2 separate regions of the Homo sapiens genome follow, and region 1 is linked to region 2. The links come from fine-mapping of genetic effects on gene expression. A gene starts in region 2. The other region holds a variant in brackets. All regions are shown on one strand. Distances are between the middles of the regions.

Evidence for each region. PIP is the estimated chance that this variant, and not a neighbour inherited with it, causes the effect. A credible set is the group of variants that fine-mapping cannot tell apart.
Region 1: its variant is the best candidate, but not a certain one, in a credible set for the expression of HMCES in whole blood (INTERVAL, PIP 0.54).

What each region holds. Positions count from the first base shown.
Region 1 is chr3:129,334,434-129,338,818 of GRCh38, reverse strand. It overlaps the pseudogene MARK2P3. Among named protein-coding and RNA genes, the nearest start is that of H1-10, 20 kb to the right of the region's middle. The variant C/T (reference allele first, on the strand shown) is at 1,776.
Region 2 is chr3:129,276,961-129,281,345 of GRCh38, reverse strand. HMCES (5-hydroxymethylcytosine binding, ES cell specific) reads right to left here and starts at 2,476. Exons shown (of 7, transcript NM_020187.3): 1 at 2,441-2,476; 2 at 1,431-1,636. The coding sequence starts at 1,613. It overlaps COPG1 (coat protein complex I subunit gamma 1), which reads right to left. Exons shown (of 24, transcript NM_016128.4): 24 at 3,573-4,052. The coding sequence ends at 3,922. RefSeq lists an enhancer at 1,322-1,451 and silencers at 1,872-2,261, 2,272-2,621.

The DNA of each region.
Region 1 (4,385 bases), 57 kb before region 2:
AAAAATTATTATCCTGTTGATCTGTGACCTTACCCCCAACCCCGTGCTCTCTGAAACATGTGCTGTGTCCACTCAGGGTTAAATGGATTAAGGGCGGTGCAAGATGTGCTTTGTTAAACAGATGCTTGAAGGCAGCATGCTCGTTAAGAGTCATCACCACTCCCTAATCTCAAGTACCCAGGGACACAAACACTGTGGAAGGCCGCAGGGTCCTCTGCCTAGGAAAACCAGAGACCTTTGTTCACTTGTTTATCTGCTGACCTTCCCTCCACTATTGTCCTATGACCCTGCCAAATCCCCCTCTGCGAGAAACACCCAAGAATGATCAATAAAAAAATAAAATAAAATAAAATAAAATAAAAAAAGAAGGAAACACCAGGAAAAGTGAAGGTGGAAGATGGAGGTGACCCTACTGCAGATGGGGTGCTCAGGGAGGGTTTCTCTGAGGAGGTGACATTCACTTGATTGGTGTATTAGTCTGTTTCACGCAGCTGTTAAAAATATATCTGAGACTGGGAAGAAAAAGAGGTTTAATTGGACTTATAATTCCACATGGCTGGGGAGGCCTCAGAATCATGGCAGGAGGTAAAAGGTACTTCTTACGTGGCAGCAATAGGAGAAAATGAGAAAGAAGCAAAAGCGGAAACCCCTGATAAACCCATCAGATCTCATGAGACTATCATGAGAATAGCACAGGGAAGACTGGCCCCATGATTCAATTACCTCCCCCTGAGTCCCTCCCACAACATGTGGGAATTCTGGGAGATACAATCCAAGTTGAGATTTGGGTGGGGACACAGCCAAATGATATCAATTGGCAAAAGGGACGGGCAGGGCCTATGAAAGTCTTCTAAGAGAGAGAACAGCAGTGCCTAGCACGGTGTCCCCTATGTCCATCCACAGGGATGGAAATAGGACAGTGAGTGGGGGTGGGGGGTGTGAGCCAGGCAGGCAGGGCCCAGACACCGTGTGATGGGTGCAGGGGTGGGACCCACGGAGGCTCTGAGAAAGGCCTGGGCCTCAGAAGACAAGGAAACAGGAAGACCCACTTACAGGCCTTCACAACTTTCTAGGGCACAGACAGTGCAAAATGGCTCAGGCCAGAATGTGGTTTAGGTTTCAGAAGGGTGCTGGGTCCCTCATGCTCTTCTTGAGGCTAAAGGGCTCCAGCTCCTTGGGCCCTTTCCAAGCAGACATTGTTCTGGGGCCCCGGCTACATGGATGGCCTTCTGATGGTTGTTGTCTGCATCCAGGCAGGGGGCATGAGCTGACCTGCTCCTTCCTTGGCCAAGTGGACAGATGAAGGAAGCCTCTGCGGGAAGGATTGTTGGACTGGGAATTAGACTTGGAGTGTAATCCAAATGCCCCACGGGCCCTGTCTCTTCTCTGGAGCTCGGCTTCATGTAAACTGGGGGACAAGGGATGGCAAGACCAGCTCGCAGGACCCTTGCCCCTCCACCCTGTGATGCTTCCAAATGGTCTCAGGGGCCACCTTTTTCAGGAAGAATTCTCTGGTTATTGAATAAAGGAAGGAGACCAGGCACAATGGCTCACGCCTGTAATCCCAGCACTTTGGGAGGCTGATGCGGGCAGCTCTCTTGAGGTTGGAAGTTCGAGACCAGCCTGGCCAACATGGTGAAACCCCATCTCTACCAAAAATTCAAAAAAACAAAATTAGCCAGGCATGGTGGTGGGCACCTGTAATTCCAGCTACTGGGAGGCTGAGGGAGAATTTCTTGAACTCGGGAGGCAGAGGTTGCAGTGAGCCAAGGTTG[C/T]GGCACTGCACTCCAGCCTGTGTGATAGAGCAAGACACTGTCTCAAAAAAAAAAAAAAAAAGAATAAAGGAAGGAAACACATTTTGAGTGGCACTTATATCAGGCTCTAGACTAGGTGTTGATTTGGTGGGGCTTGCTTTTGGTTTTTGTTGTTGTTGTTGCTGTTTTCTCCCTTTCACAAAACCTGAGTCCTATCTAGGGCCAGGAGTTAGATTCCAATTTCTAGATTTTCATAATTCTATGTTGCACAAGACAGACATCCAGGAGACCGAGGGATAGATTATTAGCAAGTGAATAAAAGATGATTTAGCTAGAGAAAATGTAGCAAAAAGGAATCAGGATGAGGGGATTAGGAATGGCAGAGGGGGAATTGGGGAGGAGGGAGTTGGAGGTGGGGCTGGGACAAACAGAAAGGAGGTGGGGGAAAAGGCCAGGGAAATCAAGTCCCAGAGTTCAGCGGGGACCAGAAACCACAGTCTTAGCAGGGCCTCAGGAGAGCAGCAAGCTGTGTTTACCTTGGAAGGGTGGAGAGAGGACTGCAGGGAGCTGAGTGGGGAGGAAGGGGGAGGCGGCAGCACAGAGGAAGCAGGGGACAGACAGGAGGAAGAGATGGTGCCCTGGGCCAGGTGGGGTGGAGGGGCCCTCTGTTCTTCAGGAGGCTCCAGGCTGTCCTTCAGCTCACTTGTAGCTTTGGATAGGCCTTTGAAGGCTACAGGGCTGCCAGATGCCCTCTTGACTTTTGAATCCTGTTCATTGACCCTGGTAGCAGCTTGGACACCTCCGTCCTCTGCTGAATGCCTCTGGGCCAGGTGTATTGGGCACATGGCAGCGTCGTCATCTTGCCCGGTTCTCACCCACAGCTGTTGGAGTCTACACATGGTCAATTTGTCCCAAGGTTTTTAATGTTCTTGAACCTCAGGGCCTTTGTTTTCTCCATTCTGAATGCCAGGATTCGACATGGACTCTCTCAGGTGTTTTGCCATAGGCAATACATTCCCATTGACTCTGGTTACCCTACGGTGCACTAGATGTCAAAACCTCTTCATCCTTTCCAACTGAGACTTTGGTCCTTTGACCAACAACCCCCCCATTTCTTCCCTCTGCCACCCCTCTACACATCTGCTCCTCAGCCCCTGTTCACCATCAATCTACTCGCTACTTCTATGAGGTCAGCTTTTTTAGATGAACACTTCAGGGACATCACACGGAATTTGTCTTTCTGAGGTGATGGAGATGCTAAGTAGTGTGATTTTGTCATTCCAATGTGCACACATCCATCTAATCCTCACACTGTATCTCATAAATGAATGCAAGCATGATTTGCCAATTAAAATAATATTAAGAAGAACATAATAAATGTAATAAAACACAGGAAGTGTAGCTCGACTGCCCCACCCACTTGGTTTTTGTCTCGGCCCAGCTGTCCATTGGGTTCACTGGTGCTGCCTTATTTCTCCCTTTGACTTTTTTGTGCTAGTCAGAAACAACATAATTGCAGCATGAAACTGAAACATCTTTTGCCAATGGCATCCGTGGCTCCTTTTGGTCACAGAGATTGAGGTTACACCATCTGGCTTCCCGGGGGTTCCCTCCGACCAAGTCACCTCTTCTGGGTCTTCCACATGGAGTGAGCCAACTTCCCAGTGGGTTCCCTGAGACAAGTCTCCTTGGGGGTTCCCCCATAGCTGCTGGTGCTCTGGGGAGGGTGAAGTCACAGGCTTATGCTGGGGGCTTTGCTGGGAATGGCTGGCTTCATCTCCAGGCCAGGTAGGGTTTGCCCTGACTCCCAGGGATGCTCCTGTTCGTGCTTCTGTGAATTAGAAAGTGGGAAAGGTCGGCTGGTTTTGAGTCCTCCTCTCGGTTGGACAGGGAAGGTTGACTTAAATGTGGCAGATGGGGAAGGACAGGTGGGGCCCCCAGGAAGGAGGGATTGTGCTCCGATGTTGGAACCCTTTCTCCTCTGCACTTTTCTGAACTCCCTGATTAGGTAGGTGGCCATGGGATGACTTCTTTTTTTTTTTTTTAATATCGCTTCCTCGATATGCTCTGCCTAGAATCCCCTGGCCACTATGAGCTGGGTTGTTGTGGGGCCTGGGAGGTCCAGGAGTGGCTCTCTGTATGGCTTGAACCATGTCTTCTGGTCGCTATTGACTCAGGAGTCCCTCAACAGCTGGTCCAGTGGAAGCTGCTCCCTGGGGTTGAGTGTGAAGAATTTTTAAATATTTTTTTCCATTAAAATAAAAAAAAAAGTAGCAGTACTATTTTAAGTTTTGTTTTTTTTTTTTTCTGTATATCCTTACAGTTCTGCTCATAAAATGGCAGGTCCCCAGCCACCATTTTGCATACGATGATGCCAAGGCTCCAAACATTGATGGCAGGTCATTGGTACCCATCCATGGCCCAGGAAGAGTTCTGGGCCTGCGTAAGGGCGAGTCCCATTAAACGTTCTCAGTCTCTCTTTGCAAATGTTGAACTAAACCCAAAGTCGGCTATTTTGATGTTACGTTCTTTGTCAAAAAAGATATTAAGGTTTGTTCTAACCCCAGGAGAGCTCTTCCCAGCTGTCTCTTTTTCCATTTCTCTCTTGCAGACTTGCCGGCCTCCAGTGTA
Region 2 (4,385 bases):
CATATTATCACAAAAGTTTAAAGAGTATGTACCAGAGGTATAATCAACTTTATAAAGTGATTTCAGCATTATGAATCAAATACAGTCAAAATTCAGGAAGGAAACAATCACAATTTTTTTTTTTTGAGATGGAGTCTCGCTCTGCCGCCAGGCTGGAGTGCAGTGGTGCAATCTCAGCTCACTGCAACCTCCACCTCCCAGGTTCAAGTGATTCTCCTGCCTCAGCCTCCCAAGTAACTGGGACTACAGGTGCGTGCCACCATACTCAGCTAATTTTTGTATTTTTAGTAGAGATAGGGTTTCACCATGTTGGCCAGGATGGTCTCGATCTCTTGACCTCGTGATCCGCCCGCCTCCACCTCCCAAAGTGCTAGGATTACAGGCGTGGGCCACCGTGCCCAGCCAACAATCACGATTTTTAAAAACATGTCAAGGTCATTTAAAATATTTAAGACATGGAGAAACTATTACTTTCTAGAACGAAGCATTTTTATTACACACACATACAAAGACACACACACTTTCAGGAGATAAGGCAAAAAACTAAAATATGAATGTAAGTGACTGGTAATTCCAACACTACAGGGATAAATACTATAAACACAATGAATGCAATTAAACTTCAGATAACCAAACCAAATACGTGTTTCTAGCCTTAGTAAAAGACAAACACAAAAAGATTGAAAACACAAGCAGAAAGAATAAAACTTTTCAATGCTCAAGAAACATCAGAAGTGTTTTAAATTAACTGATCTTAAGCCTGTCCTAGGCCTAGAGAAGTCTGATTAAGCTGGCCTGGTAAAGGGCATAGAAATATTCTTAAATTTTTTATTTTTTTAAATTTTTTCTTTAGGCAGGGTCTTGATCTGTCACCCAGGTGGGAGTGCAGTGGTACAACCATGGCTCATGAAGCCTCGACCTCCCCAGCTCAAGTGATCTTCCCACCTCATTTTTTTATTTTTTGTAGAGATGGGGTCTCCCTATGTTGCCCAGGCTGGTCTCCAACTCCTAGGCTCAAGTGATCCTCCCACCTCGGCTTCCCAAAGTGCTGGGGTTACAGGCATGAGCCATGGCACCTGGCCTTAAATTTTTTTATTATATTTTTAAGATACTCCAATGACCCTGATGATCAGTGAAAGCTGCTATTTTAAAACACAAAGCTCATATAAATTTGGCATATATTAAGGCTAGTATGCCATGTATAGCAAAGGCATTTAAATTGAGCCTGAAAAATACGTCTTTATCAGTGTTAGAAGCCACTGATAAAACTTCTTTCATGAGGCCAAGAGAGGTTCTCAACTGGAAGTCAGAATATATCAGTAAAGGCTGGTTTTTAATGTCATCCCAAGAGGCTGAGCACACACCAAACCAAATAGGAGATGACCATCACGAGGCTGGGCGAGGGGCTAGCATAGTGCAATGCTGGTTACCTTCTCAAAGTGCAGTCGAGACAGAAGCACTGGGCTGTTGGATTGAGGACTCTTGTTGTAAGAGGGGCAGTACTTATCAGGGTCCCTCCACTCCGGGAGCCGCTGCTGGCCCCGCCGATCCTGGTAGGCGCAAGCTCTCGTGAGAACATCTCTAGGTAAGTGACAGGATGTTCGCCCACACATTCTTCAACACCGCCCCTCGCAACCTTTAAATTACAAAACGTAAGGAAAAGGCTTACGTATCTCAAATATTAGGTCTTATTCCTTGAGTCCCCGCCTTCTCTTTCCGTTCCCACAGGGCCGTGCCCCTCCGTGACCACCGTCTAAAGTCTTCCCCAAAAAGTCCCACAAAGACAAGGATGTGCCCGTTTGCTTCGCTCCCTGAGCCCACTGCCCAGCTCCGTGCAGGGCACTGAGGCAAGTCCCGAGAGGAGCTCTGCAAATGCCTGCCTGAGCGCAGGAAGAGCCGCAGCGGAGGGGGCTTCACAGTCCAGCGAAGCAGGGCAAGCGCAGCTAGCTGGGGTCGCCTCCTCCGGGTGACTTGGTGCCCCCAACTCCCCGTCCTTCCCCCCAGTCCCCGCTGGGGTCAGCGACCCACGCCGGCCAGCAACCGGTCACCTCGAGGGCGGCCACTGGACGGCCCGGGGCCGGGGTGCAGAATCCCCGCCTCCCGCCCGCTAGTCCGCAGCGTCCCCGGGCCCGACCTGCGAACCTGTGGGCCGCGGATCCCGCTCCGGACTCTGCTCCCCGGAGCGGGGGCCGGTGCTCGGGGAGCAGGTGGCCCCCAGCCACCGGCCGCGATCCCTCGCCCCTCCCCGCGTCGCCTCCGCTCCGCTCCGGCCCTCAGACTCCGCCGCCCCGCGTCGCCTCACTTCGGCCCAGGCCGCCCTCTCCGCGTCGCCTCGCGTCCGCTCGGGCCTCTGCTCCCCTCTGTCAGCTCGCGTCGCTTCCTTTCCCCTCCCCTCCCCTCGCCATACCCCGACCGCCCGCGTCGCCTCCCCTCCCCTCACCTCGCCCCGGCAGCGCGCGTCACCTCCCTCGACTCTCCTCACCCCCGCTCCGCTCCGCTTTGGCCACCCGCGTCACCGCCCCTCACGTCAGCCCCGCCTCAGCCCGCGCTCCCGGCGCCAGGCCCCGCCCCCAAGGGCCCTTGGTTCCCGCGGTGCCCTCGGGCCCCGGAGGCGGCGTCTTCTCCCCTCCGGTTTGGGATGAATTTTCTCCCGTTTCCCCAGGAGACAGTGACTGCCTTGGGAGACATATCGATCCCAAGCTTCTCGGGACTCCACTTTCCTCCATATTGGCCGTTCCCTGGCGGGGTTAACCTTCCTCCCCGCCCCCAGCGTGTTTCAGGGCTGGCAGGGAAGGTTCCCGCCGCGCTGAGTCTAGGGCACAGGGTCATGGAAGGCGGGAAACCAGGAAACTCCACTCCTTACTTCACAGTCCTGCCAGCTGCCTCACAGTGCGAGGCAAAAATGGAGGAACACTGAAGAAATGAAAGTCAGAAGAACTTCCAGGAATCGCGCACTTCGCCCTCAAACATTGGTGGGCACTAGAATAAGCCTTTCCTGCCCCAGCCCCTCAGCTGAATCTCTAAGGGTGAGGCCCAGATTTTTAAAACAGCCCTTTCGGGTGTACTTTGGCCTCAAAGTTGGTAAAATAGCCTGGCTTGAGTTTAAAAGCCTGCTCCCCTTGGGACCTAAACCGGAGATTCTTCATCTGCAACCAACAGAGAATGCTCTAGAGGGCTGTTCGCCTATGCTGATTCGCTGAACTGAACAGGGAGCAGAAACCCCAGGGCACACTCCATGTAAGACCAGATGCTGGAACGATCAGACACAGGACCCAAGCCCTTTGGAGCCTCCATTTATCGACTATCAAAGGAGGATGCGTTGTGAAGAAGCACGAACGGGAGGGAGTGTGAACTCTGCCTGTTAGCTGATTCACTCAACCACCCTCTACCGCTCCCACCCCTGGGCTTGGTGCTGGGACAGCGATGACGGGGAGAGGGTCCTGCCTCACAGGACTACAACAGCCAAAGGGCTGTGGGTGCAAGGGGGACAGGGCAGGTGTTCTGCCTCTTTAGGGGAGGCCTTGAAGGGGAAGGTGGAGCCCTGAAGCATGAGTCTGCAGAAGTAGCAATCATTCAATAAATACATGCTGATTTATTACAGGGATAAGATGGTTTCTTGGGGGATAGATTCAAGAGGAGTTGAGAATGTTTTATTCATTTACAATGTCCCTTTCCTGGAAGGGTGGACAGCAAGATTTAGGACAAGCTAAAATCATCCCCTATTTAAAAAAAAAAAAAAAAAAAGTCACCAGCAAGTAGTCCCGGGTGGGAGGTGGGAGCAGAATAAAAAAAAATCTGCAATGATTCCTAATTGTTTTTCAATACAGAAGCTTGGGAAGGGGTTTCTGCCAGTTTCATGAGGAAGGCACAACTTCCAGGTAGTGTTGGGGAAGGGTATGAGGTCCTATGCAGGCTGGCCTCTTATCCCACAGATGCCAAGATGATGTCTACTGGCAGCTCCTCCAAACTTCTGGCTGTCACCTGCATTGTCACTGTGTCCAAAAGCAGCAGCCGGGAGCGCACCAGGATGTCATGACCACCCCGGAACACACCTAGAAGGGAAGAGAGAAGTACAGATATATACAGCAGAAGGGACTGTACAGGGCAGGCTAAGGATGGCATTTGCAGCAACCCATGAAGGCAGCTCTGGTGTAGTGAAACGGGCAGGAGAGCTGGGCTGAAATCCCTGAGTGAGGGATTTCACTGTGAAAGTCACTGTCTCTCAGCCAGGCGCGGTGGCTCACGCTTGTAATTCCAGCACTTTGGGAGGCTGAGGTGGGCAGATCATGAGGTCAGGAATTCGAGACCAGCCTGGCCAACACAGTGAAACCCCATCTCTACTAAAAATACGAAAATTAGCTGGGCATGGTGGTGGACGCCTGTAA